7 separate regions of the Homo sapiens genome follow, and regions 1, 2, 4, 5, 6 and 7 are each linked to region 3. Evidence: fine-mapped expression QTL. Tissue or cell type: whole blood. Region 3 holds a variant in brackets; each other region holds the start of a gene. Each region is shown on its reference strand, or each on the opposite one. Region 1 holds the start of SYN2 (synapsin II). Region 2 holds the start of AKT1 (AKT serine/threonine kinase 1). Region 3 overlaps IKZF1 (IKAROS family zinc finger 1). Region 4 holds the start of VSIG4 (V-set and immunoglobulin domain containing 4). Region 5 holds the start of PPTC7 (protein phosphatase targeting COQ7). Region 6 holds the start of CIC (capicua transcriptional repressor). Region 7 holds the start of EXOC3L1 (exocyst complex component 3 like 1).

Region 1 (4,477 bases), not on the chromosome of region 3:
GGCAATATAACACAGTGGAATGAAAGCAGTGGAGTCAAACAGGCCTAAGTTCAAATCCTGCTTCTACCACTTGCTGGCTACATGATTGTAAACATATTACTTACCTTTCCTAAGCCTCAGTTTTGTGAAGAAAATGCAATGAGATATCATGCTGAGAGTACAGCATTTGGCATATAATGGATGCTCTGACTGAGCACCTTTACTAGCTTGGTTACCTTCCCTTCCTCCGTAATAAGCACTTGTTGATATGAACTGAGTCAGAGTAATTCTAAGGAGGGCTGCCAGTGGCACTATCATATGCATTACACTTTCCCCATTACCCTCTTCCATGTGCCTTTGTCATTTCCTGGCAAAAGTCCTTTCGGATTTTCTACTCTACTCTCTTGAAAAGGCCAACCACATAAGTCACCCAAAGGACTATTCAGAATGGTGACATTAGCAGCCAGCAGGAGGGCATCTCCACATCTGCATCTCATTTCCACCACACCCACACGCCAGCACTCCCTCCCTCTGGGTCTCCCAAAGAGAGAATGCTAGAGAGAGAAAGCAGTGAAGCAGCCAAAAGAGGAAATGGAGAGAAATAGCTCTGTGGTCTCTCTGTGCACCCCTCCTGGGAAGAACACTCAGGTCCAGTCTCCAACCTCAACCCCTATGAGAAAAAAAAAAAAACAAAACCCTTGCTCACATTCCTGGAGAAAAGGCACCCCCAGATTCTCGGCCTCTTCATTTCTCCAAGCCCTTCACCTATCAATTTCACCATCCCACCATTCCCTAGGTTAACTATAAAATAGAGCCGCTTTTAACTAATTTGTCTTCAGTGGACCTCATTCGTACTTTTACCAAGCAGCAGCCTTCACCATTCTAAGTTGGAAACATGCTACCTATCTCTTTAGAAGAAAAAAAAAATTATTGAAGTTTCCCATCTACTACATTAAGGCAGGTCTCCTTTTATTTGTACCCCTTTAATGATCCAGTATATTTTACCAAGGTCTTCATCTTTCAGCTAGAAAAAGCTACCATTCACTTCCACGCCCCGCCCCCCACCACGCACATTTCAGAAAAACAAGCAATCAAAAAAAAAAAAAAAAAATTCCACACGTCCCCTCCCTGCTGCACAAAATACAACAATTTTATTATTCATAAAGAGACTTCAGCCATGCTCCGGGGAACAAGCCCGTGTACACCTGGGCCACTACATGTGTGATTTCATCAACCTGATGTCAATACTTGATATCAGCCTTCATGGGTCCTGGTTAAAAAAAACCCACCACCACCTTCTCCCTCCAAAATACCAATTTCCATTCCAAATTCACTCCGTGCTTCATGAAGTTAAACCTTTTTTACTGGCCCTAAATGTTCCTTCGGCCTCCTGGGACTATTTCACTTCAGATTTTATGTGTCTAAGCTAACAAGTGTGTCCCCTCCTCTACCCCCAAAAAAACTATTTCCTAAGGGCCTTTCCTGTTGCATAAAGTAGCTCCTTCTTGTATGGGACCTGGGGGACCTGGGGCAATTGAGGGGTATTTTAGCTTTGGGTTCGCCTTTCCGGGCTGATGGATGCCCTCCCTCACCCCGCAAACGCGCGCGCGCTCAGCCCGCACCTCCTCCCAGCGGGACCTCGGGGACCCTCCTTTTTATTGGTCTGAAACGTTTCCTCGGCGACCTGGGACCGTCCTCTCCTGGCCTGCGGCTGCCGGCGGACCCCGACCCCCGAGGGCGGCGGCGCCCGGCACCTACCAGTCGGCGTGCGGCTCGTCGACCACCAGCAGCACCTTGGCCTTCCTGGCGGCTGCGGGCGCGGGAGCGGGCGCGTCCACCAGGCCAGCCGAGGCGGCCGTCTGCTTCACGGCTTGGGACAGCGAGCTGAAGAAGCTGCTGCCCACCGACGGCGTCGGCGCGGGCTGCGGCGCGGGCGCCGAGGCGGGCGGCGGCCTCCGCTCCGGGCCCGGCGAGGCGGTCGGGGGCGCCGCCGAGGCCGAGGCGGCGCCCGGACCGGGGGGCGGCGGCGGCGGCGGCTGCTGGGGCTCGGGCCGCTGCAGGTCGGTCATGTAGCCGTTGGGCAGGTTGGCGATGAAGCTGCTGTCCGACAGCCGGCGCCGCAGGAAGTTCATCATCTGGCTTAAAGGGCTGGGGGCGCGCGGGGCTACGGGGTCTGGTGGCGCGGAGGGAGAGCGAGGGCGGAAGGCGAGATTGAGGCGACTGAGGCGGCTGAGGCGGCGGCTTAGCCAGCAGAGACTCAGGCCCCGGCACCAGACCCCGCAGACAGCAGCGGCGGTCTGGGCCAGGCAACCCGCGCGGCGCGAGGCTCGCGGAGAGGGAGCGGGCGGGGCAGGGGCGGGGCCAGAGATAGCCCCCGCCCCGCGCCGCAGAGGCGGCCCCGCCCCGCTCACGGAGGGCACCTAGCCGCGCGTCTGGCGACTCTCGGGGCTTGCAGGAGGGGGCGACCCAGGCCTCCAGCAACCTGAGCGTGACTATGCGGGGAGGGCGTGGGAGCCAGGCCTTCTCCCCAGGGGAAGGAAAAGGAACCAGAGGCCCCACCATCTTTTTGGTTGGAGAGAAAAAGAGCCGTGTCCCAGCTGAAATGGAGGCGAAGGAAACCGACCCCACTCCTTTTGGAAGGATAAGAGGTGTCAGCCTCCCTATGCGGAGGTGAGAACGAAAGGAGTCATCCCAATCACGCGCGCACACACGCACACAAGCACGAACACCCTGTAGTGAGGAGGAAAAGAACCACCTCCTTTCCCAACGCTGGGGAGAAAGATGTCATCTCCCCAGCCCCCAGAAGAGGGGGAAGGGAATAATCCGCTGTTACTAACACACACACACACACACGCGCGCGCGCGCGCGCACACACACACACACACACACACACACACACACACACACCCTATGGTGAGACAAAAAAGAAATACCTCTTCTAGGGAGGAAGGCAGCCTCCTTACTCCAAGGCGAGGGAGAGGAAAGGGGAGAAACAGATCCTCTCTACTCTGTCATGGAAGGAGGGGTGGGGTGTGTTTTCACTCCTGCACTTCTAGGGACAACAACAGTATGTACTTCTCTCCCCCTCCTCACTGACCAGTGAGAGAAAACCAAGAGAAGACTGGAGACATGGTCTCCACCCCAAGAGGGATATCTAAGGATCCCCCAACCCCACCGTGTTTCTTTCCTAGCATGCATTGATGCATCCAGTGCTATACCAAGAAGGACATCTCTTCAAGATCTTTCTACTTGTTTTTTCCATTTTATTCGTTGCCTTGACCTCTGTGAAGACATTTCTGATGGCCACCTTCCCATGTGCACTCTCTAAATCTTGCGTGACTCTTGGACCTTTAGTTTTCATCTCTCATTAGATATACTTTCCCTTGTGTTGTAATGGAGCAGGACACAGCAGATAGGCTTTACAGCAGACTACCCCGGGTGATATGTGACCCTGGATCAATAACCCCTGTGAGCCTCTCTCCTTAGCTGATAAAAAGGAATAAGTAACCCTTTCCAGAGTTGTTACATGGAGTAAATGAGATCATGTATGTAAAGCATCTGGTACACAGCAGTAGGTATTCCAGTAGTGATGCCTGAATTCTTTTTTCAATTGGTTCTCAGTAAGTATGTACTGGGCTGAATGGAGTCAGGGAGTGGCTTGTCACTAATGTTGGTGGGCAGTTCTTGCTTCCTGTATCCCAGCTGGCACTCAACTCAGGGCCTAGAGATACACAATCCAGCTCTGAGCCGGTGCTATCAGAGAAGTCTCCAGTCAACTATAATAACACAGTGGTCTTCCTATCTACTACATGCTTGGCACAGTGGTAAGAGCTGGAAAGGCTGAAATGAATGGGAAGTGGCTCTTGTCTATTGCAAGTTCATGATCTATGTGGGCTGGGGGATGGAGGGAGGATAGACACAGGAACCACATAAGATGTGAGAAATGCTATCATACAGTTGGGCAAAGAGGGTTAGGAGGCCTAAGGAGGGAGGGACTCATTCTGCCTCTGAGACTTAGGAAGGCCTCTCAGAGGAGGTGACATTTGAGGTGGATCTTGAGGCAGCTATGTTTACCAGTAGAAAAGTGAAGAAGGCAGGCAGGCAGGCAGCCAGAGAAGGCATGGAGAAGGTATGTAAGTTGATGGTTCCTCCAGGAAGCCTTTCGTCAATCCTCCAGGGCGGGCTAAGTGTTCCATATCCTGTGCTTGGCTTTGTCATAGACCCCAAAGAAACTATCATACAATATTCTGGTGACTAGAATGTAAGCTTTTCTAGGACAGGATTATGTCTTAGTTATCTTTGGGCTTCACACCAAACACAGGACCTGGCATGTAATAAGGACTCAGTTGTTTGAGAATTGAACTGTAATCTTACCCAACTCGGTTTTTGTGTTTATTGGAGAATAAAACTGATAAGTCACTAATAACATAATTAAATAAACTTAATTATTGCCCTTCTTAAAAAAAAATTTTTTTTTTGAGATGGAGTTTCGCTCTTA
Region 2 (4,000 bases), not on the chromosome of region 3:
CCCAGGGCCCTCGAGTCCTGCCCCCGGCCAGCAGCTGCAGAAGGTGACAGGGCAGGAGGCCCCTGAGCTCTGGGAGGAGGCAGCCGTCGGGCCCTTCCCTGGTGCAGCAGTTTTTGTCGGAAACATCTGGCCACAGAGCACCTCAGCAGTCCCAGCAGCAGCCGTGGGGCTGGGTTCTCTCCTGACCATTCTGTCTGGGGTGGGAGGGGGTGTTCTTGAAGAGAGGACTCTGCTTTCCCTCTGGGACGCTGGAGGAGAGGGAGATGGCCCTGCCCACTGGGAGATCCCCGTCTTGGGGGAGGGCAGTTCATGCCAAGGTGAAGACAGGACTGGAGTGTGGGGCCCACAGTGGGTTGCAGGCACCAGCAGATGCCAGGGCACCAGGCTGGGAAGACTGGGAGGCCTCCTTGGAGACAGCCAGTGCAAAATAAGCAAGAGGTCCAACCACTTCAAGAACAGCCCGCAATGTCACTGCCTCTTCCATGAGAGGGTGCCCTGCTCCCTCCCACATCCCCAAGCCTCGGCCACTTGCTGGCCTTGTCTCATGGCCCTCTTACCCTCTGCTTCCTCCCTGAATTCCTTCCTCCATCCTTGCATGGCAGAGCCCAGGATGGTGGACAGATACCAGGAACTCTTCCTCGGGGAGCAGTGGGCAGGTGGGACAGTCCCAGAGGGAGCCCCAGGTGGCTCATGGTGCAGGTTTGCTGGGTGAGAGACAGACACCAGACGCCCAGGCTCTGGGGGCAACCCTTGTGTCAGGTATCCCACCCAAGCGGCGCAGACCACTGGGCCTCTGACTTGGCCCCCTGGAGGTGGGCCCTTCCTGGGGTTACAAAGTCTGAGCTGGGAGGGAGCAGAGGTGCTCAGGCGAGAGGCAGGAATGGGGAGTCCCCTGTCTGAGGAGCGAGTGCCCTCATGCAGGGGGAGAGAGTCCTTCTCTTGGTCAGCCCCAAGAGGCAGGGATGAAGCCCGAGTTTTGGCTGCAGACTCTGTCCTGAGCACTGGGCCGAACCTGCTGCCTCTGTCTGCATCTCCTCCCACCCCCTCCCCTGCTGCCAGCTGAACTCACTCTGGCTGAAAATAAAAATGCTCCCCCAACCCCAATACTTAGCAGCCTCAGGAAGGTAACTCACAAGAGTCTGTCTTTCACAAAAGGGTTATTATCAACTGTGGGCCTCTGGAATGGGGGAGGGGCAGTTGTCGGAGGAACTTCTGGCTAGGAAGGGGTCGGGGTGGCAGTCACCTGCACTCTCCTGTGAGTGTCCAGGAGAAAGGGGTCTGTGTCCCACTTACTCATTCCATACCCGGGCCATCTGCCTCCCAGTGGACTTCGGACTGGGTGTCCGGGCTGACCAAGTCCACCCAGCAGGGAGGGCTCTGGGCTGTCAGCTGTCACAGCCCACCCTAGACACCGCTCCTCCTCTGTCTGGTGTCTGCTCCCAGCTCAAGGTGGGAGCCAGGCAAGGTGTGCCCCTCTTCTCCCACTCCCCAGCAAAGTCCCCCTTTTGTGAGTGTAGCTGCCAGTACCTAGGTGAATGGTTGACTCCCCTCGGAGCCTTCCTGCTCCTTGGAGGCCCACCTCCAACTGACCTCCTGTCCTGGCATCCTCCCGCACTTCCCCCAGAGGCACAAGGTCTTGGGATTGGGCCTTTTAGGTCACTCTTGGCCGCCCCCTCCACGCCCCCCAGAGTGGGGCAGCCTGAAAGTCAACCTAAGCCACCCCCGCCCCGCGCGCGGAGGCAGAAGTCCGGGATTCGTCCCTGACCTGTCTCGGGCCCCTTCTGCTAGGGTCACGGCAGAGCGAGCCCAGAAGCGCCGGGTCACTTTACAGACGGGGAAACTGAGGCCAGAGAGGGCGTGGCCCCGGGACGGGCTGGCTGGTGGCCGGGCTCCGTTAGCGGCCCAGCCCAGGCCCCAGGTCGTCGGGAGCTGCCCCTCAGCCCGGCCGCGCGCTCCCCGAGCGCGCTCCGCCCTCGCCGCCGGCCGCGCGGTGGGGACGCCCCGGGCGGCGGAGGCGGATGTGGGCGGGCGGCTCCGGGCGCGGGGCGGGCGCGGGGCGGGGAGAGGGCGGGCCGGCGGCGGCGGCAGGACCGAGCGCGGCAGGCGGCTGGCCCAGCGCACGCAGCGCGGCCCGAAGACGGGAGCAGGCGGCCGAGCACCGAGCGCTGGGCACCGGGCACCGAGCGGCGGCGGCACGCGAGGCCCGGCCCCGAGCAGCGCCCCCGCCCGCCGCGGCCTCCAGCCCGGCCCCGCCCAGCGCCGGCCCGCGGGGATGCGGAGCGGCGGGCGCCGGAGGCCGCGGCCCGGCTAGGCCCGCGCTCGCGCCCGGACGCGGCGGCCCGGTGAGTCCCCGCCCGCCGTGGCCGCCCGGGCCTGGATTTCCTCCCCGCGGGCCGGGCCGCTTTGTTCGCGGCCGGTCGGGCCGGGGCGCGAGCCGCGGCGCCGCCAGAATGGAGGAGCGGGAGCAGGAAGTGGCCGAGCGGGCCTGGGCGGGGAGGGCGCGGGGCGCGCGGGCCCGGCCAAGGGAGGGCGGCCCCACGCCGGGCGCCGGGGGTGCAGGCTGCCGGCCCCAGCCTCCCTCATGACCTTGGGGAGGCCGCTCCGCCGGGCGAGGCCGGGACCCGAGAGAAGGGACGCCGCCGGGCCTGGAGCTGGGGCTCGGGGTGCCCCTGCGGGCCGTGGGGCTCCCCGGGCGCTGGGCCAGCGAGGCAGCCGGCGGAGGTGCCCCGGGGTTGGAGAAAGACTCGCCGCGGCCGGCCTTCAAGTTTGTGGGAGGGCCCCGGAAGGAGACTTCGTTTCCCACGGACGAAAAGTTGTACGTGGTGGCGGGGTACCCAGGCTAGCCACAAAGGACTGTGACCCTCCTGGGCCCCGGAACTGCTTCCTGTCTTGGGTGGGCCCTGGAGGTCCTGCCCGCCCATCCCAGAGGCCAAGGCTTGGAGGGCAGCTGGGGCTTGCCCCTTAGATTGAGTATCCTGGGGCGCTAGCGAGCTTGGTCCTGTCGGGACGGCCTCTGAGTGCTGCCTTGGTCAGCGGGTGAGCTTGGGCCCCTGCTCTGCAGCCAGAGGCCGCCCCACATTCACTCCTGGGTCTCTCGGCCTTGCTCCAGGTGGCCACTTCTTGACTGCTTTGAGTCCCTCATCCGAGCGAAGGGCGGACGGAGTCCGTTGGTGGGGGTCCGGTTGCCTCTCCCGGGAGCTGTGTAGACTTCTCATACACCAGGGTTCTGGAGGCAGATGGAGGAGCCCTTTCGAAAACAGAGTATTTTTTTTTAAGTTGTGACTTAATAATAGTAGCAAGAATATGTGCTTATGGTAAAGGCAGGCGGCAGGTACGGAGGCTGTGGGAAGTCGGGGTCCCTCCGCCCCCACAGGCAGCCCTGTGCTGGCCTGGTGTATACGTTTCTGTGCAGACGTACACCACCCTGTGTGAGCACAGATGTATTTTTACACATGGCTCTGGACAGCTGTCTGACTCTGTCAGCAGCAGGCCTTGGAGGGGCTCAGGCCCGTGTGGGGGTGGGGGGACATCCAGAGGTCTTTGAGTCCAGCCCTCTGCCTCCAGGCCACGCCCACTCAGTGTCGTCAGAGCCCCCTGTGCCTGAGGCGTGCGCGGCTCGGAGCCCTGCCCTCGGAGTCCTGCGGTGCCTTCCTCGAGTCTGGCCTGCTTTCCATCCTGCTAAGTACTTGGGGCATTTCCCTCTTTGGGTAAGGTGTGGTCTTCCCTGTCCTGGCATTAGACACAAGGCAGTGGGCCTTCCTGCCATTCTAAGTGTAGCTTAAGACAATCAGTGCAAAGCAACCCTTTGTGGGTGTCCAGCCCTTGCCTCGGGAGGCCAGAAAGGTGGCCTGGGGGGAGAGCGTCTAAGCTGGCTGTGGAAAGACCCATGTTGGGATCCATTCCACAGAGGTCGTCAGGGGTCTCTGCCTGGCCTGGAGGTCCCAGAGAGGACCCTCCTCCCCTCAGGAAGGCCCATCTGGAAGGGTAGCAGAGGACTGCT
Region 3 (4,000 bases):
ACATGTGAGGACAGTCACACACTAGACACAAGGCAAAAGGTGTGTCTTTTCTGACCTGGTCATGCAGATTAATGAGTTTTTGAAATACCACTTTACATGTCATATACTTAGGAAAAAATATGATTTCATTCAATGTATTTTGCAGATGAAGAAAGAGGAGGTAGGCCTGCCCCACACATCCCGATTCTGGTAAGGCAGAGAACTGAAGCTTAAACCCAGGACTTCTGCTTCAAAATCTTTTACAACAAGCTGGGCTCACCTTCTGGAGGATTTTTTGGGGGTTTGGGGAAAAAGAGGTGGGTAAATTTATAAGTCAGCTCAGAAAGCAATTCTCACGACTTCACAATTAAGCCTTATTTGTGAACAAAAAAACAGCATTCCTCAGGTTAAGTTAGCACTTTATTCAAAGGTCTAGGCTCTAAAAGGATTTTGGACTATTTCTAAAAGGAAAATAAAACCCAGACTCAAATATACAAAAGCAAGTGCTTGGGTCTCTGAAGGTAATCAAAACAGGGAGATGCAAAATAAATGTGAGTGATGAAAAAAATGCGGATTCTCAACGTTAGGTCTTCCAGGCATGTGTGCTGGTGCATTAGGCCTTCAGCCCATCACTGCTGCACTGTATTACACTCTAGGTACACTCAGTTAAAGACATGAAATGACCATAGCTAGAGACAGTAACATTGTAACCACAGCGTGTCTTCTCCTGGCACAAGCCTCTTGTACAAAGAAGTAGTTCTCCTTGTCCACAAATCTCAAACCAGGAAATCCCTAATTCATTTAATGATCAGGAAAATGCAAGAGATTTGTGTAGTTGTGACTCTTCCAGTTACTCCCCGCTGTACCATTATTTTAGGTTACCTATCACACAGGATGGTGTGCCTGATGGCACTGGCAGTCATTTCTCTATGTCTTGTAGAAAAGTTTACTCCTGGGAAAAACAATTTGGTCACTAGTCCTTGGACCTAAGTAACAGAATCTTGATGAAATGGTACCCATGATCAAATGTTAAAAGGAAGAAAGGGATGGAGAAAAGAAGAGAGGAAGGAAGGAAGGAGGAAAGGGAAAGAAAAAGGAGGAAGGGAGGGAGGGAGGGGAGGGGAAGGGAGACGAGGGGAAGGGAGACGAGGGGAAGGGAGGGAGGGTGGGGAGGGAAGGAGGGAAGAAAGAAAGGAAGGAAGAAAGAAAGGGAGGGAGGGAGGAAAGAAAAAAAGAGGAAAGAAGGAAGGAAAGAAAGGAGAAAGAGAAAGGAGGAAAATTAAAAAGAAAAAGGAAGAAAGGAAGGAAGGAAGAAGAAAGACAGGAAGGAAGGAAAAAGGAGGAAAGAAACAAAAGGGCAAGCAAACAAGAAAGGTCAAAAGACAGTAACGGCCCAATCAAAGCTTCCATGACGAATCTGTGCCTTTTTGGATCATGGTGTACTCAGGAAATGCAGCCGCCACAGGAGCACACGCTGTCTCCTGAACTGCAGGAAGAGCAGCGGTTAGCAGCAGGAGGTGTCCCTTTCACAGGAAGGCTGGGGTCTGGGCTGCACACTGCGGAGCAGATTCACATGCCAGGGTGGCCCCGCTTGGGCTATGAGGACATGGGTGCCAAGGTGGAACTGCTTTCTCAGGCTGCAGGCAGGCAGCTTGCTGCTTCTCTTTCTCTCTTTGAAAAAAAAAAAAAAAAGCCTTTCCTTCACCACCTCTCCTCGGTTGCTT[T/C]ATCAGGTTGCAAAAGCATCTTTTAGGAAGTATCAAGGGGCATCACTCTCCACAATTTTTGCAAAACAATTCCATAGTTGTGATGGTGTCTGTCTTTGCAGCTTAGTTTACTTACAGCCTGTCCTCAAGGGCGCTCTCTGGGAACCTGCCTCATGTCTATAAAGCAGCTACCTCATTTCAAAAATTTAAAGAGGACTTCCCAACTTAAAAAAGTTACCATAGAGTACATGGGAATACAATGAAGGGATGAAGACAAAAATTAAATGTCATGTTTTTCTACATTTAATTCAGCTACTTAGCTTTGAAAAACTGATTTGTTTGACATGTTCACATGTTGTTGTATTCTCGTTACTTTGTACTTAACCAAAATGCCTACAAGTACAAGACCTGTACTTAAAACACAGCTACATAAAATAAACCCAATTGATGTTAAAATTGGACTGGACCTAGATTTTCTTTACATCAAATGTGGGCAAAAAATGAAAGACTTAAAAAGCAGATGTTCACATACATTTGTGACAACACTGAGAAAATGTTTTGAAAAGCAAATTGATTTAAAAACTACTTTTAGAGAGTTGATAAATGACTAGTCTTTGGCTAACATTCAACAAGGGTTAATCTAAAAAGTTTTTTTTTTTTCCACAATATAATGACACACAGTTCTTTGGAGCTCTCAAGATCTGCCTGCCTGTCCAATAGGTAACCCCTAGCTGCATGTGACTCCTGAGCACTTGAAATGTGACCAACCCAAATTGAAATGTGTGGTGAAGATAAAAAAAAAATACATCCGGGGTTTCAAACACATAGTTCAAAAAGAGTAAAATATTTCATTAACAATTGCTTATATTGAGTACATACTTAAATAATATTTAAGCATACTGAATTAAGAAAATATATTCAAATTAATTTCACCTGTGTCATTTTTCTTTTTTAATGTGACTACTAAAAATGGACCAGCAAATATGCAGGTCAAATTATGTTCCCCTTGGACAGTGCTACGCTGGAATTTCTGATTTCTATATTTCACAAATAATGTTCCACAGATGCTAGTTATCATCCATCTGTAAAACCTCTGTCCCTCAAACAATGACTGTTCAACGTTGTTGCGTCTCATAAGGCATAAAGCTGGGCTAGGACTGTCTGCCTATGTCCTGATTAGAAAGACTCCATACAGCCTGGATACGGTGCCTCACATCTGTAATCCCAGCACTTTGGGAGGCTGAGGCAGGTGGATTACCTGAAGTCAGGAGTTCGAGACCAGCCTGGTCAACGTGGTGAAACCCCATCTCTATTAAAAATGCAAAAAATCAGCTGGGCATGGTGGCGGGCGTGTAATCCCAGCTGCTTGGGAGGCTGGGACAGGAGAATCACTTGAACCCAAGAGGTGGAGGCTGCAGTGAGCCAAGATCACACCACTGCACTCCAGCCTGGGCTGCAGAGTGAAACTCTGTCTAAAAAAAAAAAAAAAAAGACTCCATACCCAACATTTAAAATATGTGTGCAGGCACAGGGCAAGCAGATTTTAAGGGTATATTTTTAGGAGACTCCATCAATAATAAAACATGGTTATTGAAATGGGAAAAATTAACTAACACATATAAAACCTTAACAGAAATTTTTACACTTAAAGCTACAAAGTCAAATATAAAAATCAGTGTTGAGACCATATATAAGTAGCAATAATGCTTTAAAACTGCGAGTAAATGCAGCCTTTACAGTGACAAAAACAACTCCATTGTCATCTCAGGATGAAAGTCACTTCACTTAGATCACAGCATTCTCTACAGAACAATAATTTCACTAAGGATTACTTGCACCATAACACTAAGATTAAGTAAGGGTGGCTACACCTGGTAATAGTTAATTGTCACTAAACATTATGGACAGAGTAGAAATGCTTGGGGGGCACTGGCAGATTCTTAATTTTATTGCCACCAAGTTCAACTGGAGAGCACAGAGATATTGCAAAAGCAGTCAAAATTCTGCCAGGTTCCAAGAATCATAATAAAAATGATCATATAGCTGCCTGTAGAAATATAATAACAGCACTTTTCTCATTTCAGCAGGATTTCACTTCTAGGGTAACAGTCCTTCACTCTGAAAAAGAGAACAGCCACATCTGCCACTGGGCTCTGCCATGCAGCAGGGGGCCATGCTGAAGGCCTTCCATCGATCACACCCAGCCTGGTGAGGAGTGACACCGGATGTTCAGGGCTTCACCAGAATCATCTCCTGGTGATTTCAGTGGAAATCGACAGCCTGCAGCCACATCCCCTGTGGGGGAAGTACTCTCCTGG
Region 4 (4,477 bases), not on the chromosome of region 3:
GGCTCTACAATGAAAAAGAAAAGTAGTGTAAGGGAGTATAGAGTGGTAGGGAGAGATACAAGAGTATGTGCAATAATACCCACCTGAGGGGTTGTAAGAACCAAGGGAAATAACCCATGCAAGGTGCTTAATTCAGTGACTGGAAGAGTAAAAGATTTTAAATAGCAACTATCATTATATAGTTGTTATTGTATGTATAGTATAGTTTGATTTTTATAAATCTGAAAAGATACAAGCATCAAGTATAATTATGTTCATGTTACAATTAGGGAAGCTGAGGTTCAGAGAGATTTGACTTGTTCAAGATCTCAGAATGAAGTAGACACAGAGCCAGGCTTATCTCCAGGTTTCTGACTTCTCATCCAATTCTTTTACTAATCAAGAGGGCTACTGAGCCTACTGCAAGACTGGAAGTCTTTCCCAGCCTTGAAGTAATGTTGTGCATACTCCCCAGGACATTTATTTATCTTCAGATCCAGGAGGTCCTAATAAAATGCAAGAGGTAGCACAAAACACACAATCACCTGGCCAGGCAGAAATTTACATCTGTCCAGTGGGCTTTTTAGCGGGGAAGGGGAGGGGTGTGTGTGTGTGTATGTGTGTGCGTGTGTGTGTGTGTGTGTGTGTGTGTGTCTGTGCGGTGGTGGTGGTGTAGTGGTGATAGGGTGTTGGTTGAAAAATATCAAAGGAGGGTTCTGTGAAGTTCAGGGTTTCCTGAGTGAGGACCCGGTGGGAAAAAATGGCTGAAATTTCCAGTGAGATGGAATGAGTGCAGTACTCAAAAAACAAGGAACAACCAGCCAAGGGGGATTGGGCCCTAGAGGCAGAGGTGATTGATAGAATTCCATGTAATAATGTGTCCTGAAATGCTGGAATGTCTCCTTAGCCCGTGCACAGCTCCAAATCATCTGCATGCAGCCACCCCTTGGCAAGTATGTTTCTTTATATTCCCACTCCCCATCTCTGCACAAACTCCTCCCTCCCCTGACCAAGTCCTTTCCTATCCCTCCAATCAAAGAGTAAACTAAGCTTAGCTGTTACTTACAGTGCAGTATGAATTTTTGGGATGTATTTGTGCTTTTGAAAGTGCTTATTGTTTCAAAGCTTAGTAGACAAAGCGCAGTGCCAAACCTAGTTAGACTGCTGATGAAATTACAGTCACTCTGGGGCCTGTGAAGAGGAGCAATTTCTGGAGCAGTTGAGCTTTGCTAGGAGGCATAATATTACTCTCTTGTAGGTCAAGGGCCTGTACCAATTGGAAGTCAATGAAAAATTCAACCTAATACAGCATACCACTAATGGGCTGCTGCACTGGAGGCTAGGCTTAAATTTCCCTTAAAAGAAGTAAAAAATAAATTCCTTATGAAAAAGCATGGAGAACATTAATGAAAATGAATTCTCCCTTACCATCAGAGAGGTGGAGCCATTGTAGAAAGTGATTCAAAGAGCTTCCCCAATATGAGATATGAGGCATATTCACCCATAACAGCCTTATCCATTGGCTTGTCAATTATTCAAGCTTTGATGTGTAGAAAGCCCTTTAATACACTAAACTCTTGTACTCTTAAGCCCAAAAGCACCCCGGGCCCAACACCCTGTCCAGTTGCATAGGCTGCACAGGCAAGGGTTAACAGTACAACTAATGAAAATTGGGTAGGTCAGCAAAGTTGATCTCTTCTCCCTGGGCTCACCACAAAGGAAAACACCGCCATACTGGAGTGGGAAGACTCATCCCAAAGGTCGCCCCCACAACCTCTGAATCTTGTGGAGGAGACTCAAAATAAATACAGCCTAGGAGATCAAAGACCAGAAAGCCCCATTGGCTCCAAGGAAAGTCAAGTCAATACCCTAGCAGGGGGAAGAATTGCTTCACTCATCCTGGAACCTCCAACCCCAAGGAGGTGGGGGAAGGGGGGCACCCCACATGACCTGTACTGAAATAGGGAAGGAAGGGGAATGTGTGATGGGACTAGGAGTTTGAGTGAGAGATATAGGGAAGGAAGGGAAGTAAGCAGTCACAGACGCTGGCGGCCACCAGAAGTTTGAGCCTCTTTGGTAGCAGGAGGCTGGAAGAAAGGACAGAAGTAGCTCTGGCTGTGATGGGGATCTTACTGGGCCTGCTACTCCTGGGGCACCTAACAGTGGACACTTATGGTAAGGCAGAAAGGGGGGCCTGGCTGCCATTGCTGGCTTAGGCAAAAGGCTAGAGGGTTGGTGTTTAATGTCTACTATGGAAAGCCTATTCCTACTGGGCAGGTGAGTCTTCTCAGCCAAACTCTGCAGGCTCTCTCAGCCTTGAGCAAAACGGATGGATGTAGTTGAAGGCTGCTGAAGAAGCCAGAAGGCAAGTTTGGGCAGAAATTGAAAAAGGATTTTTCTCTTGGAAAACATCTGCATTATTTTCTAGGGCTTGTATCTCAGGGGCATCAAGAAGGTTCCCAATGACATCCGAATCTTTCCTCCATCTGCTGTCTCTCATCTAAAATTCTACAATTGGACTTAACCACTCTGCTTCCAAGCTTTGGTCTCTGTTAAAATATACAGCCCCCGAAGAAGGAGTGTTTTCTAAGAGTTGGATAGGACTATAGAAGTAACCTATACCACCCTTCATTGTCATGAATAAGTGCTCAGAAACATCCAGTAGTGATTGAGATTTCACTGTTCACTACCTCCCCAGACCATCTAGTCCATCCAGGAGCAGCTCCAACTGTTAGAAAGTTCTTATTTGTGTTGAACTAAATCCAGTTCCCTCTGACTTCCATCCAAAAACCCCAGCTTTGCTTCTTGGGGCTACACAGAACATAGATGCTTCCTTGCCCTGTGATAGCCCTTCAAAGCCCTGAGGACAAGTACTATGTCTCCTTGACTCTTCTCTCCTCCAAGCTGAACAGCCCCAGCTTTTTCAACTGGTCTTCATAGGACTTGGTTTCTTACCCATTCCTGGGATAACTCACTTCCCTATAGACATGGCTCAATTTGTCTGGGCTATTTATGGGCTGGATACAAATCCCAAAGGAGGATGGACTATTCCATAGTGGCATTATTTCCTTGGAGCTTGGGAAGCTCTATCCTCATCTACACTCCTGAGAAGTGAGATGGATTTTCAGGAAACTCAACCTGGGTAACAGCTAAGTGAGATCCAATATAGGGTAAAGGGGGATTTTGCTGCTTCCCTATCATCCCTAGAGAAAAAGGCTGGATAGGTGTTAGCTTGGTGTCACTTGTTAGGTCAGAAAGAATCCAGCTTTCCGTAGCTGACTCTGATTAGGTTACCCTATCCTGGGGCTCTGTGACCCATCACACTCTGGAACCTCAGAGTTAGAAAAGACTCTGAATTAAGTCAACCAAGAGAAAAAATAATTTGCCCCCAAGCCAAAGAGCATTAGTGGCAGAGTTAATGCTCCTGAAAAAACATTTTTCTTTCTATAACTACCACATTTCCATTCTCTAGCAGGTTTTATAATGTATCTCTCTACCTTCTCCAAGTCTGTTGGTTTGAGCTAGGGCTTAAGCCTGGGGCTTGAGGGAGCATTTTAGAAATGTTAAATTTAAATCCTTTGTTTGTGTGTGTGTATGTGTGTGTGCATTCATGTGTGTGTGTGTGTGTGTGTGTGTGAGAGAGAGAGAGAGCACTCATGTGTCTTGTTCCTTCCCCAGCCTATGAGCTTTTCCAGACCTGGAAGCAGGCCTTCCATTTGTACACAGGATCTTATACTATAGACCTCAGGCTCAGGTTATGCTGAGCTGCAAATAATACCTTCCCTCTCCCTGGACCTCATTGTTCCTAGCCCATCTGTACAGTGAGGAGGTTGACTTGACTGGTCTTAAAGGGGTTTCTCAGCTGGACAACTCTGTGGGACTGCAGCTTCACTGCTAAAAACCCTGTAGCGGCCAGAGTAAGCTGCTAGCCTCTTCCTGTGGGGCTAAGAGATATGTCAAGATAATCAAAATTTAAAAAATTTCTAATATTCACATTTTATATACATTTTAAACATTTCAGAAACATTTTATAAACATCTATTATATAAGTTAATCCTCCATCCAGGAGGCATTCCAGGAAAGGGAGAGAAGCCAGTCATGTGGGGGAATGGGATAGAGATATGGAAAATGTCAACCTCTTTGTGATGATGGGAGGAAGGGGATTCAGAAAGAGACCTAGAATGGGTCTTATAAAGGAGCACACACCTAGTAAATTCAACCTTTCTTTTCTTCAGTGCCATTACACAGGCATCAGACATTTGCTTTTATAAGGCTGGGTCTCAGGACCACATTAAGCTCAATACTGTATATATACTTATCAGCAATAAGTATATATACTTATCAGCAATAAGTATATATACGTATCAGTAATAAGTTTATATACTTAGTAATAAGTATATATACTTATCAGTAATAAGTATAATATAATATAATGTTATATATTATATATAAGTAATTATCAGTAATAATTATATAATTATTATATATTATATATAAG
Region 5 (4,477 bases), not on the chromosome of region 3:
GATTCTGTTCGCCACGTGCTTCTGTGGGCAACTCATTTGCAGGAAACTCACTTGCAGGAAATTCATTTGCCGGAAACTCAAGGCACTGGTATCACTTAATCATGAAAACAGCAGCCCCATCGGAGCAGAAGTTACTGGCTTTAGAGTCACATTTTAGGTTCCTACTCATCCCATCAAACCAGTTCTTGTGACTGACATGGAAATTAGGTAATATATGCCCTGAAAAGGAAAAGTAGGAGCAGTCTGAAGGAGTTTGACGAGGCAAGAAATAGGGTTGACATGCTATTTTAAAAAGTTTGTCCTTGGGGTAGAATTACCTGCCAGACTGACTGGGATCTGGTAGTGGTATGTGTACTTGAAAGAGCTACCTTTAGCACAGCTGGCAGCAATATAAATGCCAAGTAGAGGATTCCGAGAGGCACTACCCCCTCTTCTGGGCACTCTCCAATTCTTGTGCCATTAAAAAAAAGGAAGGTGTGAATGCATTATTGTCATTACTATACCATTTATCCAGTAAATGAACATTTTCTGGGTTCTGTATATTTGACAAAATGCCACTACGTGAAGTCATTTCTTCCGTCCAATTTTGATGAAAGCTCTTAAAGACAGAAACATATATATAGACAGTACTTGGCACACTGTGAACTGCAAAAGTGTTTAATGATGACAGTAATTAGGATAACGGAATAATATGTGTTGAGTTGATAGTTGGCAGCATTTTAAATATATTAAGAAAGCATAAAAAAGGACCATTTAAAAACGAGGTGGGAATCCCCAAAGTAACAATGGTCTTGTTAAAAGTGAACTAGAAAAAGACTGCTGTTTCTGAGAAATATATGTTTCAATCAAACTAAAAATTACTCTAAATTGAATTACTTGCCCCAAAGCTCATTTTCTGTTGTTTGTGAACCCCATTCACTCAATCATTCCTGTATTCAACAAACATGACTTTCTTTTATCATTTGTGTTCTTATTCCATTACTCCTTCCTTTTTTTTTTTTTGAGATGGAGTCCAGCTCTGTCTCCCAGGCTGGAATGCAGTGGCGCTGTCTCGGCTCACTGCAACCTCTGCCTCCCAGGTTCAAGCGATTCTCCTGTCTCAGCCTCCTGAGTAGCTGGCATTACAATCGTTTGTCACCAAGCCCAGCTAATTTTTTTTTGTATTTTCAGTAGAGACCATGTTGGCCAGGCTGGTGTTGAACTCCTGACCTCAAGTGATCTGCCCACCTCGGCCTTCCAAAGTGCTGGGATTACAGGTGTGAGCCACCACGCCCAGCCCATTATTCCTTCTTTTATTCCACAGACATTTACACACTCTCCTACTGTGTGCCAGGCATTGCTTTAGATTCTAATAATTGAGCAGCAAATGATCCTTGTCCTTGGGAAACTTAGAATCTAGTGAAATATTCATTCATTCTTTCATTCATTCACATATTTACTGGGTGCTCACGTGTTCTGGGGATACAGCAACAGAAAACACAGGACCCTCAGGTAAACGAATTACATTCCAAAGGGTAGAAGCGAAAGCAAGGGCAAAGGTCTTGAGACAGCTGTGAGCATGGCTAGAGGCCAGTTAGCAAAAGGGACATGACACCATCTGTGTCCCCTCCCACTCTGATAGGGACACATAACATTTTCTCAATTTTTCCTAAAAGACTACAAAAAGTCTCTTCTTTCCAAACAGTTTGCCGCCCTAAATCCTTCCAGTATATTACTTGGGGAGGTGTCACTAGATCTGTGTACCTCTGTTTCTCATTATGTGACTCCATTCTGGTTTCTTGCAGGTTTTTGTTTAAAGGAATGGTGGCGTTATTTATTTAAAACAGGCTTTAAAAGATACGGTTAAAACAGGGTAGAAAACCCTCACGTGGCCCACCTGCAATTCCTACTAACTTAACATAGGTCCCGCGTCTGAGGAATCCCCCTAGGTCCTAAATCTTTGGCAGCCAAGTCAAAAGTGACTACGACTCCGGGACTATAATTCCCAAGAGACACTGCGTCCGCACCCTCTGCGCATGTTCAACCTTGGTGACTGCATAAGGCAGCGAGCCCAAGGGGCTGGGCTTGGGCCTGAGCGGTGAATCGGGGCGGGGCTAGGGGCAGGGCCAGGGAGGGGGCGGTGCTGCCGGCACCGCCCGGAACACGCTAGTGGAGCGGAAGATGGCGGCGGCGGCGGCGGCCGCTGCAGCCGGGACTTCAGTTGGGCTGAGGCGGAGGAGCCGCCGCTTCTGACCTCGCTCTGGCTCCGGTGCGCGCGGCTGAGCGCGTGCGAGGCCCCGCGCGTCGGGCAGGGGCGGCGGCGGCCACTGCGCGCCGCCCTGAGGAGCGCCCCAGCGGCGGCGCGACTGCGGCTGAGGAGAGAGCCGGCTCCGGGCCTCCGCGTCCTCCTGCTCCCCCGGCCCCCCGCCTCCTCGGGGGGGCGGCGGCGGCGATGTTCTCGGTCCTCTCGTACGGGCGGCTGGTGGCCCGCGCCGTGCTCGGCGGCCTCTCGCAGACCGACCCCAGGGCCGGCGGCGGCGGCGGCGGCGACTACGGACTGGTGACGGCCGGCTGCGGCTTCGGGAAGGACTTCCGTAAGGGCCTCCTCAAGAAGGGCGCGTGCTACGGGGACGACGCGTGCTTCGTGGCCCGGCACCGTTCCGCGGACGTGCTCGGTGAGTCCCCGACCCGGTTCCCTTGCCCCAGCCTCGGATCCGCCTCCCGGGGACTCCCCGCGCGGGGCTTCCCCAGTTCCTCCCGGCGGCGAAAGGAGCCAGAGCGCTCACATGGAGGGAGCGCTTACTATGCGCCAGGCGCCGTGCCAAGCGCTCCGAGGCGCGTTTTCCGCTTGAACGACCCCCATTTTAGAGAGGAGGAAACTAAGGCGCACAGCGGTCAAGTCGTGTGCTCAAGGTCACAACCCGAGAGTGTGACCGGTCTGTCCGAGTCCAGAGCCACACTCTCGGTCTCACTCGGCCGTGCCAGCCCTGGGCGACCTCGTCCCCTCCCTGGGCGACACCTGCAGGCTCCTAACCTCGTTCTGGTTCCCTCTCCGCATGCCCCGGGGATCCCTGCCTCTTCGCGTGCTCCCGACACCACAGCCCGGCCCAGGCTGCGGGATCGCCGGCCGACAGGCAGTCGTGAGCCCCCAGACAGCCCGGCCGTATTCTTTCGCCGCCTGGATGGTAACCAAATCTTCACCCTTTTCGGAGTGTGGCGGTGGGGGCTGCTGGCTTGGCGAAAAAACCCTCACAGCGTTTTCTCCCAAATTGATCTTGTCCACTTGCGGTCACTTGGGGGTTGGCAGAGTCTCCTTGATCCAAAATAGAATGGTCGAGCCTACTTGTAGATTGCAGCCGGTAAAGCTCTGAGGATTGGTCACAGCCTTTTCAGGCCACAGGTGCTCCCTGAGGCCTATTCCAGTTATACCTTTTGGGGGTGGGAGACTACGGAGAGAGCTGGCAGAAAGGGCTAAATATAGTTCACAAGCAGTCAGAAACTTTACCATAATGTACGCCTTAGGAGATTTTGTGTATGCTATGGGATATTGTGCCGTTAAAACTCTTTGAATGAATAAAGCAATGCGCTCGCTTTGAAATTGAAGGACGTGTTGTCATTGAACTTGGGTTCAAATGTCACTTTGATTTCCCTTCCCAGGTGAGACTAAGTTTTTGGTTACTTTAAATTTCATATGCTGAGGCAGAGTTTGGCATTGGAACAAATGATTCTGTAACTTTTTTATGACAGTAATTATTTTTTAATCTGATCTCAGAATAATTGCCTAGTATCTTTGGTTCTACTACATGTAGTGTTTGTGAACATGGGACTGGAAAGGTTGTTCTCAGTTTAATTTATGAATGACCCCATTACCTGGGTTGAAGAAAAAGCATTTAATGTTTAGGCAACGCTATTGATATTAACATGAGAGGGAGACTTAGAAAGGTCCTGCAGCTTGCAGATTGAAATTGTACAAATCCACCCCGAAGTCAGCTGTCAGTGGCTGTCTTCCCTGATACATTTAGAAGTGCCTCACTCAATGAGCTTGTGACCTGTGCTGCGTTTTTTTTTTTCAGACGGAGTCTACCTCTGTCACTCAGGCTGGAGTGCAGTGGCGCAATCTTGGCTCACTGCAGCCTCCGCCTCCCCGGTTCAAGCGATTCTCCTGCTTCAGCCTCCCGAGTAGCTGGGATTATAGGCGCCCATCACCATGTCCAGCTAATTTTTGTATTTTTAGTAGAGATGGGGTTTCACTGTGTTGGCCAGGCCGGTCTCGAACTCCTGACCTCGTGATCGGCCTCGTGTTCGCCTCGGCCGCCCAAGGTGCTGGGATTACAAGTGTGAGCCTGGCCCCTGTGTTGCTTCTTAAAGTTGTGTTCATAACATAGGATAGGGGATAATGAGCCTCTAAGGTTCACCTCATAAATCTGTATGCTGGGCTGCGCGTGGTGGCTCACTCCTATAATCCCAGCACTTTGGGAGGCTGAGGCGGGTGGATCAT
Region 6 (4,477 bases), not on the chromosome of region 3:
GGAGGATTACGCGGAGCAACTCAGGAACCTCTCCAGAGCCAGTGTACCCTAAGATTTCCCACTTGCTGAGTCTACTGTCTCCATCCCACCATCCCCAAGGCCTCCTCTCTGGCTGCTGTCAACTCATGTGATACCTCAGTCAGCACCAGGCACAGGTGAGCACCTGAGTCCCCTGAGTATACACACTCTGGCTCCTTGGGGAACAGACACCTGCTGGCTCTGCAAAGGACACAGAGCACATGCTCTGAATGCCCCAAGGGGACATCAAAAGCACTAACAGTTCACACCTATGGAGCACTCCCTGTGTCCTGAACTCCATGCTAAGCTTGCCTTTATTAACCTGTTTCATCCTCACAACAGCCCTAAAAGCAGGTGCTACTATCGGCCTCATTTCACACCTGAGGAAACTGAGCCACAAAAAGATGAGACAACTTGTCCAAGATCATCCAGGTGGGAAACAGCAGTGCTAGGGTCTGAACCCAGGCTCTCTGGCTCCAGAGTCCGTGCTCCTGACCATTTCAGTGTGCTGCCTGTCACATGATCCAGAGGGCACATTTACTCGCACTGTCACCATGCAGAGAGTACATGCACTCAGACACACACACACATGCACAAGTACCAAGTCACAAAAAGGGTGGTGACTGGGCTGTGATATGAGCCTTTCTCCACCCCCCCACCCTCCCTCTGCCCCTCTGGGCAGCCTGGCATGGCCAGGCACTGTGGGAAGAAGTGGGCAGCTGAGAGTCCCGAGGGACGGCTGCCCACTCTGCTCTGCACCCTAGGGCTGCCAGGTACAGCCATCTCCCCAGATCCTGGCAGGGAGCAGGCAGGGGCATGTCTGGGGCAAGAGCTCATACCCAGCACTGCCACGGGGCCGTGCATGAGCACACGCACGCGCACAAACACACACACACGCACAGAAGCACGCACACGTCATCACACAGTGGGACACAGAGCTACACCCCAGGGTTTCTCTGTCCCACTGGATGGGAGCCTGCTCCTCCCCCCACAGCACCCAGCGTGATACCCGCAAGCCCAGCCCCCCTCTTCTTGCCTGCATGCATCCCCGCCCTGGCTGGGCTGGCTCTGGCAGGGTGGCTGAGTCGGCTAGCCCCCCGCAGGCCCCCAAATATGCCCTCCAACTCCAAGTGGGGATAGGTGGGATAAGGTCAAAGAAAGCAGGACAAGCCCAACAGGCCAACCTCACCCACTTCCTGAACAGTCATTACTGCCCGCCCCCTTTCGAGCTGCCCTGAGAAAAGAAAAGGGGAAAAAACTTTACTCTGAAGTGACTAAGAGAACCTGAGAGGCCAAAACAGAGGCCTCTAGGAGGGTTGGGGGACCCAGAACCATAAGCCAAACACAATGAGAGGCAACCCCGACTCAGTCTTCCAGCTACTGGGGGACCCTTGACCTCATGCTCTCTCACTAGGGGCCTGCTCCTCCTGTGGACCCTGGAGTCCCAGGCCTGCCCTTTCTTGGGCCAATCCTGGGGTCCTCACAGGCAGAGCCTGGAGGGCGTCCCGGGGCTGGCACCCAAATGCCCAGAAGTTGGGCAGCCATCACCACCTAATACCCGCTGACCCACTAGACTACCATGTTGGGGACTGAGATCTGGCTCCAGTTTTTTCCAAGCACAAACCTTTGCATACCCCACCCAGGGCCTACAACTATGCCGCCTGGACCCCTAGACCTTGCTGCCTGGCCCAGCCTCTCTTCGCCCCAGAGCTGCTTTCTTTCCCCTAGGGCCTACTCTCTTCCTGTCCACCCTGTCTGAATAACTCCCACCCAAGCCCCGGGGGCCCTCACCTTCCTCAGATCTGAGTAGTAACTCCCGGAGCCCAGGCCAGCCCAGGCCCTGGCTCTTTGGGGTCTCATACCCTCTGTTCCCATTAGCCCTCCTGGCACCAGCTTCTCTGACACTCTCTCTCTCATCCTGTCACTACCTCTATCTCTACCTCTCGGTTAAAATGCCCTAGGCCCCCTCCTGTCACCCCCTCCTTGTCACCCCCATTTATCTCTGTCACCTATTCCTCCCAGTCACTGTCCTGTCAGCCATCTCCGGACCTGTCACCTTCTCTCCCCATCACCTCTCCTTGTCACACTCTCCAACTCTGTCCCCTCCCTCTCCCTGTCACCCTGATCTAGTCCTGTCACCCCTCCATTCCTGTTACCCTTCTTTGCCCACCACCCCCTCCCCCAGTTACCCTTTTTCTGTCAAACCCCCACCACTTCCTCCACTCCCTCCTCCCTTCCCACCATTCCGCCCACCCCTTTCCCCCTGTACCCCCTCCCCGTCCCTGCCACCTGTCCCCTCTCGGCCCCCAGCCCCCCGGACCCCCCTTTCCTGTGTCAGCCCTGGCCCCGCCCCTCACCTTGGGCTCGGCGGGGTTTCGGGGCGGGGGGCCGTGGCCCCGGCTCGGTCCGGTCCGGTCCCTCCCCGCCCCCCCTCCGGCTCTCCCTCTCGATTCTCCCTTTTTTTTTTACTCCAACACACAAAATGGTGAATGGACCTGCAACAGCTGGAGCAGCCAGCCAATCAGCGATCACAACCCCACTGACCGGCGCCAGCCTAGACCAATAGATATCCGCAGACTGGTCGGCTCCGCCTCTCGACGACGAGCGACGCTCGCGGCGACCAATTGGGCCCATCGGGCAGCGCTAGGGGGCGGGGCCAAAGTCCAAGACCGGCCTCCCTCCGGGACCGACACCAACCTGAGCCTACGACTGCCTGATCTGCCTAGGGCCCTACCCTACAACAAGTGAAGGACACCAGTCGTGTCCAATTGCAGGCCGTCTTAGTTCCAAATGACAAATACAGTACCCAGTCGCCATGCAGCCTAGGCCGGAACCCAGCCTCTGTGAGGGACAGTAGCCAATGAAATGAAAGGAGGAGGGGCTAAGGGACGGGTTGTCCAATGAACGGAGGTAGAAGGCGTGGCCCGAACGTTTGTTGACCGGCTAGTCGCAGTTCCTGCTGGGAACCGTAGTCTTCTCACGTCTTCGGCCCATAGCCGACAGTACAAGGCAGACTACAACTCCCATGTGACAGAGTGCTTGGAGCACCAAAGAAACCCGGCGAGGAGAAAAAGTCGAAAAGGGCAGTTCGTCGTGAGTCTCACTGGACGCCAGGAGTATCTTAGACCCAGGGCCCCGACTCACCCGTATTCCTGGCTCTGGCGTCGCCGGTGGCTCCTCTCAGTGGCAGCGGTAGCGGCACGAGGGGGAGGTGCAAGGAGCAGCCAACCGCCACCCGCGAGCCCCGCAGCCAATCAGCAGCGGCCGGGGCGGTGCAATGACCTCACCGGTTCTACTCTCTTACCCCTCCCCCACGTGGTTGTTGCTGCCGGTAGACGGAGTAGGGAAGTTTGGATTGGGGGAGGGGAGGAGAACCAGTGATGTCACCTTTCCCCTTGTTGATTGGCTGCCGGGTGGCCGGGACTACGACCAATTGACGGTCTCGAAAAGTCTGGCGCGGCCCCGCGGAAAGCCCTGTTGCCACCGGGAGGGGAGAGAACGCGCGCTTGTGGGGTGTCGCGCGCTGCAGTATAGGCAACGCGCGCGGCCTGGGGCCCGGGGGACAGGTCACCTCCTCCAAGAGTTTGACATTTAGGACAGCGCAGTTTGACAGCCCACTAGGCATTGGGGCAGGGGGCCGAGATGACGAAATGCAGCGCTTCTTGGGGCTTCGCACTGCATTACGTGGAGAGCTACACTTTGTGGGTGTACGCCCCTGACAGAGGCAGATTTTTAAAGATCCCAGGGGTAGGAGGGTATCACACTGGAGTGGAGGAGGACAGGGAGATGCCCTGTTTGTAGTAGATGCCTGCTGCCCAGATACGGGTTTACAACCAGATGGTGAACCTGTCTGCAATGCATCTATGCCCTCCACTTTGTATTCGCCCTGGTCCGAGGCTAATGGGAAGCAATATGGGTACGCTGGCCGCAGGGAGGCTTTCTTTTGCCTGTGACAGGTTCAGATTCCACACTGGAATTCACACCACTTGTGAGGAAACTGCATCCAGTCTATTGCAAGTCATACTGTCCATGAAACACTCAAACTACGTGTGAAAGAATGTGCTAGGGCATAGAGCTAGTTCATAGCATAGAAGAAATATTAGTTGTCCAATGGGGTTCATGGAATATGAAGGATATTCACATCTATGAGAAAGTCCCACTGTTCACAAATTATTTGTGTTGAGATTGGGGGAAATTCACTGTCCACGAGGAGTTCACACTCGGAAGGAATCTTATAACCTACACTGTTGTTATTATTATTATTATTTTTTTCCCCGAAACAGAGTCTTGCTCTGTCGCCCAGACTGGAGTGCAATGTCGCAACCTCGGCTCACTGCAACCTCCGCCTCCTGGGTTCAAGTGTTTCTCCTGTCTAAGCCTCCTGAGTAGCTGGGATTACAGGCACACACCACCACACCCGGCTAATTTTTGTATTTTTAGTACACACGGGGTTTCACCA
Region 7 (4,477 bases), not on the chromosome of region 3:
CGAATAAGACGAAAACTACCTGGGTAGACCGGGGAGTTGGGATGAAGTTGGGGAGGAATGAGAAGGGCGTCAGTGGGCCGCCCTGGCAGTAGAGAAGGGGACGCCATCGGAACTTTCCTTGCCAATCTGCCCCAACATCACTAACTCTGCCTAGTCCCCATCTTGGGAGAGGAGACCACACTACCTGACTAATCCAATCTGCTCCCTCAAACCTGTTCCTTTTCCATTTTTTTCTCTTTATTTATTCTTTTATATATTTCAAACTCATTTTACTGCCACATCAAACCTGTTCCTAAAGGCTGCCCTACTGTCTTGGGGTCACCCCATCTATTCCTATCCCTCACTTCCTGCCAAACAGCAAGCACTAACTATATCTACCTTGTCCACCTTGTTCCACCCATGGTCCTAGCCTCATCTTTCGCTCGTCTTGTCCTCACAGTACAGTGCTCAGAGACTATGGGGTTATGAACACTTCAGCCAATGCAAACGTGTTTACCTATGTGTAAATATCAGTAAAGCACTCAGTCATTCCTGGCATGCAGGAATGTGTGATACGGTCATTTTGTAACTTTTAACATTGTTACTATTTATTATTGTTTCTTTTAGATCAGGTCCTCTGGGAAATGGGACTCGAGATAGGGTTTTGCAGCAAGTTTGTTGGGGATCCACACTTTTTTTTTTTGAGACAGGGTCTCACTCTGTTGCCCAGGCCGGAGTGCAGTGGCAAGATCAATGCCGTCTCAGCTTCCTGGGCCCAAGCGATTCTCCCACCTCAGCCTCCCAAGTAGCTGGGACCACAGGCATGCACCACCATGCCCGGCTCATTTATTTTTAGTTTTTTAGAGATGTGGGTCTCACTATATTGCCCAGGCTAGTCTTGAACTCGTGGGCTCAAGAGATCCTCCCACCTCAGCCTCCCAGAATGCTGGGATGACCGGTGTGAGCCACCGCACCTGGTCAGGATCCACACCTTTAAGGGATTAAGACAAGCAGAATTGAGCAGATGCAATTATATTATAGGCCTCAGCCTATCCCACTAGGATCTCTGAAATTGGGGTAGCACTTCTGAAGGGTTCATGTTCACACGATGGTACCATGCTTTTGCACCCCAATATTGACTGAGAGACTCAGTGGTGTGATCTCAGTAGCCTACACTCCTGGCAGCTGGAGAATGAGCACTTCTGTCCTGAAGGGTGGATTTGGGTGGTGGACTGAACATCCACTAAATAATTACCACCTTATAGTCCCTTCCCTGGCTCCCTATAACTCTCAAGATAAACACAGCTGCCCAGTTGCGGTGACTCACGCCTGTAATCTCCCAACACTTTGGGAGGCTGAGGCAGGCAGATCGCTTGAGCCCAGAAGGCTGCAGTGAGCTATGGTGGTGCCACTGTACTCCAGCCTTGGTGACAGATCAAGACCCTGTCTAAAACAAAAAAGATAAACACAGCTTTCATGACCCTCTCCTACCACCCCCCACCACACCCCTCTTCACAAGAGCCTGCCACCTCTCACTCCTCCGCAGAGGTACACATCCTCCTCAGAGGCTGGCCAACACAGTTTTCATCCTGTGCTGTTGATGTCGTCTGCATCCATATCTGCACACTCTGCCCACCACCCCAGGTTGAGGCCAAGTCTAGCAAATCCCTATCTCCTCTCCTGAGCACTAAGAGGTTCTGGGTAGGCTGGTCAAGACTGGTTGAGTACAAGTACACCCCACCCCCCCGCCCCTCAGGGAAGTGTCGCCCAGCTGTCCCCACCCTCTGTGCAGACACTCTTTCCTGTTGGGAATAAAATGCCAGAGACTCAGCTTCCTTCCTTTCTGTTGATGGCCTTGGGGAGGGAGGAGCCTCGGTGGGAAGAAGGGGCTTCTGGGTGGGGAGTGGGAGAGAGACTTCCTTGGGGAGAGGAATTCAGCTGCACGCTGGAGTCAGCTGGAGTTGCCCAGGCCCTGTGAGCAAGTGGCAGGCGTGCCCAGCTGCATTGGGGAGAGGGCTGTTCTCAAGGCCAAGGTCATTTTTGGAGGGAGAACTGGACGCCTGATCAAATCTGGTAAGTTCTGTACCAAACTGTCCTGTGCAGCTCAGAGCAGGACCAGGGTCCAGTGGAGGCCTGTGCCCACTCTGTCTCGCTTGACATCTGCAGGGGCACGACTGGGAAACCTAGCAGGCAAAGCCTCCCAGGTGCCCTCCGCATCACACCCGCTCCCTCTCACTTCCCGAGGGGGCCGGGAAGAACCTCCTTCCTCCTCTCAGAAGGGCTTAGACAGAGGCAGCAGCTCACAGGGGCATCTACTCTGCCTGCTTGCCCCGGGCCCACCTCAGCTCTGGCTCCTCCAGGCCCACAATGGACTCAGCAGCCAAGGATGAGATGCAGCCGGCGTTGTCCCCTGGTATGAACCTTTTGGGTGGACTAGGGGAGGAATGATGGCAACAAAGATGGGACTGGCTGGGCGCAGTGGCTCACGCCTGTAATCCCAACACTTTGGGAGGTCAAGATGGGCAGATGACCTGAGGTCAGGAGCTCCAAACCAACCTGGCCAACATAGTGAAACCCCGTCTCTACTAAAAATACAAAAACTAGCTGGGCGTGATGGCACGCGCCTGTAATCCCAGCTCCTCGGGAGACTGAGGCAGGAGAATCGCTTGAACCCGGGAGGCGGAGGTTACAGGGACCCGAGATTGCACCACTGCACTCCAGCCTGGGCAACAGAGCGAGACTCCATCTCAATAAACAAATAAACAAACAAATAAATAAATAAATAAATAAATAAGAAAGCTGGGACTGGGGTCGTTGGGCCCTCCTCCCTGACTACACGGCTGCCCAGGCTCTTCCTTCCCAGGACCTGAGTGGCCAGAGCAGGAGCGGGCAGAGCAGCTGGCCCGGGGTGCAGCGCTCAAGTGGGCCTCAGGCATCTTCTACCGGCCGGAGCAGCTGGCCAGGCTAGGCCAGTACCGCAGCCGCGAGGTGCAGCGTACCTGCTCCCTGGAATCGCGCCTCAAGGTGGGCATGGGGCAGGGGGTGCGGGTGCTGGGACTGTGCTGCAGGGCTGGCCCAGCCTCATGGCTCCATCTTTCCACAGTCAGTGATGCAGTCATACCTGGAAGGCGTGCAGACTGGTGTGTGGCAGCTGGCCCAGGCCATTGAGGTGGTGCAGGGAACCCGGGAGGCCCTGAGCCAGGCCCGTGGGTTGCTCCAGGGCATGTCCCAGGCCTTACAGACTCTAGAGCCCCTACGGGAGCGGGTTGCCCAGCACAAGCAACTGCAGGCCCTGTCTCACCTGCTGCCTCGGCTGCGGGCAGGTGAGCATGCAGGGACCCTGGGCCTCAGCCTCCAATAGTCAGTCCACAAACACCCATCCCTAATCAAGGGGCTGGGGCACTAGATGGGGAACTGCATAGAGCAGCACACCAGGGACCTCCCAGACAGTAGCCCGGGCTTCCCATGGCCTATGAGGCAGCTCATCCTGGGATTCCCACGTGTGGGATGCTTGAGTCAGGACAGACACCCAGTCATGTGACTCTGGCCACCTGGTTATCAGTATATTCAAACTCTTCCCTAACAGAGTGGCTGAGCGAGTACTGGCAGGACCCCCCGATTTCCCCTGCCTTCCCTCCAGGATCCTCAGCTTCCTCATATTCCATGAGTTCATGGGTTGACCTCTGGCCCACCAGGTCTTTAGGACATTGCCAAGATCCTCTTAGATTGGCCAGTACTCTACTGGTTATTTATTTATTTATTTATGGTTTTTTGTTCATTTTTTGTTTTGTTTTGTTTTTGAAACAGAGTCTCACTCTGTCACCCAGGCTGGAGTGCAGTGGTGTGATCTCGGCTCACTGCAACCTCCATATCCCAGGTTCAAGCAATCCTCCTGCCTCAGCCTCCCCAGTAGCTGGGATTACAGGCATGTGCCACCATGCCTGGCTAATTTTTGTATTTTTAGTAGAGATGGGATTTCACCATGTTGGCCGGGCTGGTCTCAAACTCCTGACCTCAAGTGATTCACCCACGTTGGCCTCCCGAAGTGCTGGGATTACAGGCATGAGCCACTGTGCCCAGCTTACTCTACTGGTTGTTAAATATTTTATGCATCACCCCCGCCCTGGGCCTCAGTATCCCCTGCTGTACACATTGAGGCGGTGGGAAGGCTGAGACCCAGGGCCGTCTCCTTTTCACTCTCATTAGTGCCGGCTGCAGTGTCCCACACACAGACTCTGATTGATGGCCAACAGTTCTTGGAGGCATATGTGAGCCTTCGGGAGCTGGAGCAGCTGCGAGAGGATACGTGGGCACCCCTGGGGGGCCTGGAGTTGCCAGTCTTCCAGGGGCTGGACCTTCTGTTCGAGGCACTGGGCCAGGCTGTGGAAGCAGCTGCAGGGGCCGCAGGGAAGCTGGCACGGGAGGACCCAGCCCTGTTGGTGGCTGCTGTGCGTGTGGCGGAGGTGGAGACTGGACGAACAACCCCCCTGGGCCAGGT

Evidence for each region. PIP is the estimated chance that this variant, and not a neighbour inherited with it, causes the effect.
Region 1: SYN2 starts here. The variant in region 3 is the best candidate, but not a certain one, in a credible set for the expression of SYN2 in whole blood (TOPMed, PIP 0.87).
Region 2: AKT1 starts here. The variant in region 3 is fine-mapped to the expression of AKT1 in whole blood (TOPMed, PIP 0.98).
Region 4: it holds the start of VSIG4, and the variant in region 3 is the best candidate, but not a certain one, in a credible set for the expression of VSIG4 in whole blood (TOPMed, PIP 0.84).
Region 5: PPTC7 starts here. The variant in region 3 is the best candidate, but not a certain one, in a credible set for the expression of PPTC7 in whole blood (TOPMed, PIP 0.89).
Region 6: CIC starts here. The variant in region 3 is the best candidate, but not a certain one, in a credible set for the expression of CIC in whole blood (TOPMed, PIP 0.74).
Region 7: EXOC3L1 starts here. The variant in region 3 is the best candidate, but not a certain one, in a credible set for the expression of EXOC3L1 in whole blood (TOPMed, PIP 0.90).

Annotation. Positions count from the first base shown.
Region 1 is chr3:12,002,189-12,006,665 of GRCh38, reverse strand. It overlaps SYN2 (synapsin II), which reads right to left and starts at 2,278. Exons shown (of 13, transcript NM_133625.6): 1 at 1,738-2,278. The coding sequence starts at 2,114. RefSeq lists an enhancer at 1,079-1,579.
Region 2 is chr14:104,793,826-104,797,825 of GRCh38, reverse strand. AKT1 (AKT serine/threonine kinase 1) reads left to right here and starts at 2,078. Exons shown (of 15, transcript NM_001382430.1): 1 at 2,078-2,342. RefSeq lists enhancers at 1-156, 157-929, 2,971-3,612, 3,613-4,000 and silencers at 1,767-2,126, 2,307-2,356, 2,387-2,706.
Region 3 is chr7:50,340,319-50,344,318 of GRCh38, reverse strand. The region is part of intron 3 of IKZF1 (IKAROS family zinc finger 1); the gene reads right to left. Among named protein-coding and RNA genes, the nearest start is that of IKZF1, 38 kb to the right of the region's middle. The variant T/C (reference allele first, on the strand shown) is at 1,704.
Region 4 is chrX:66,037,621-66,042,097 of GRCh38, reverse strand. VSIG4 (V-set and immunoglobulin domain containing 4) reads left to right here and starts at 2,018. Exons shown (of 8, transcript NM_007268.3): 1 at 2,018-2,154. The coding sequence starts at 2,100.
Region 5 is chr12:110,580,986-110,585,462 of GRCh38, reverse strand. PPTC7 (protein phosphatase targeting COQ7) reads left to right here and starts at 2,145. Exons shown (of 6, transcript NM_139283.2): 1 at 2,145-2,654. The coding sequence starts at 2,432. RefSeq lists silencers at 1,993-2,322, 2,363-2,512.
Region 6 is chr19:42,267,280-42,271,756 of GRCh38, reverse strand. CIC (capicua transcriptional repressor) reads right to left here and starts at 2,505. Exons shown (of 21, transcript NM_001386298.1): 1 at 2,376-2,505. RefSeq lists enhancers at 797-846, 3,006-3,515.
Region 7 is chr16:67,187,546-67,192,022 of GRCh38, reverse strand. EXOC3L1 (exocyst complex component 3 like 1) reads left to right here and starts at 1,887. Exons shown (of 14, transcript NM_178516.4): 1 at 1,887-2,052; 2 at 2,340-2,392; 3 at 2,843-3,003; 4 at 3,083-3,302; 5 at 4,186-4,477. The coding sequence starts at 2,347. RefSeq lists enhancers at 1-46, 1-145.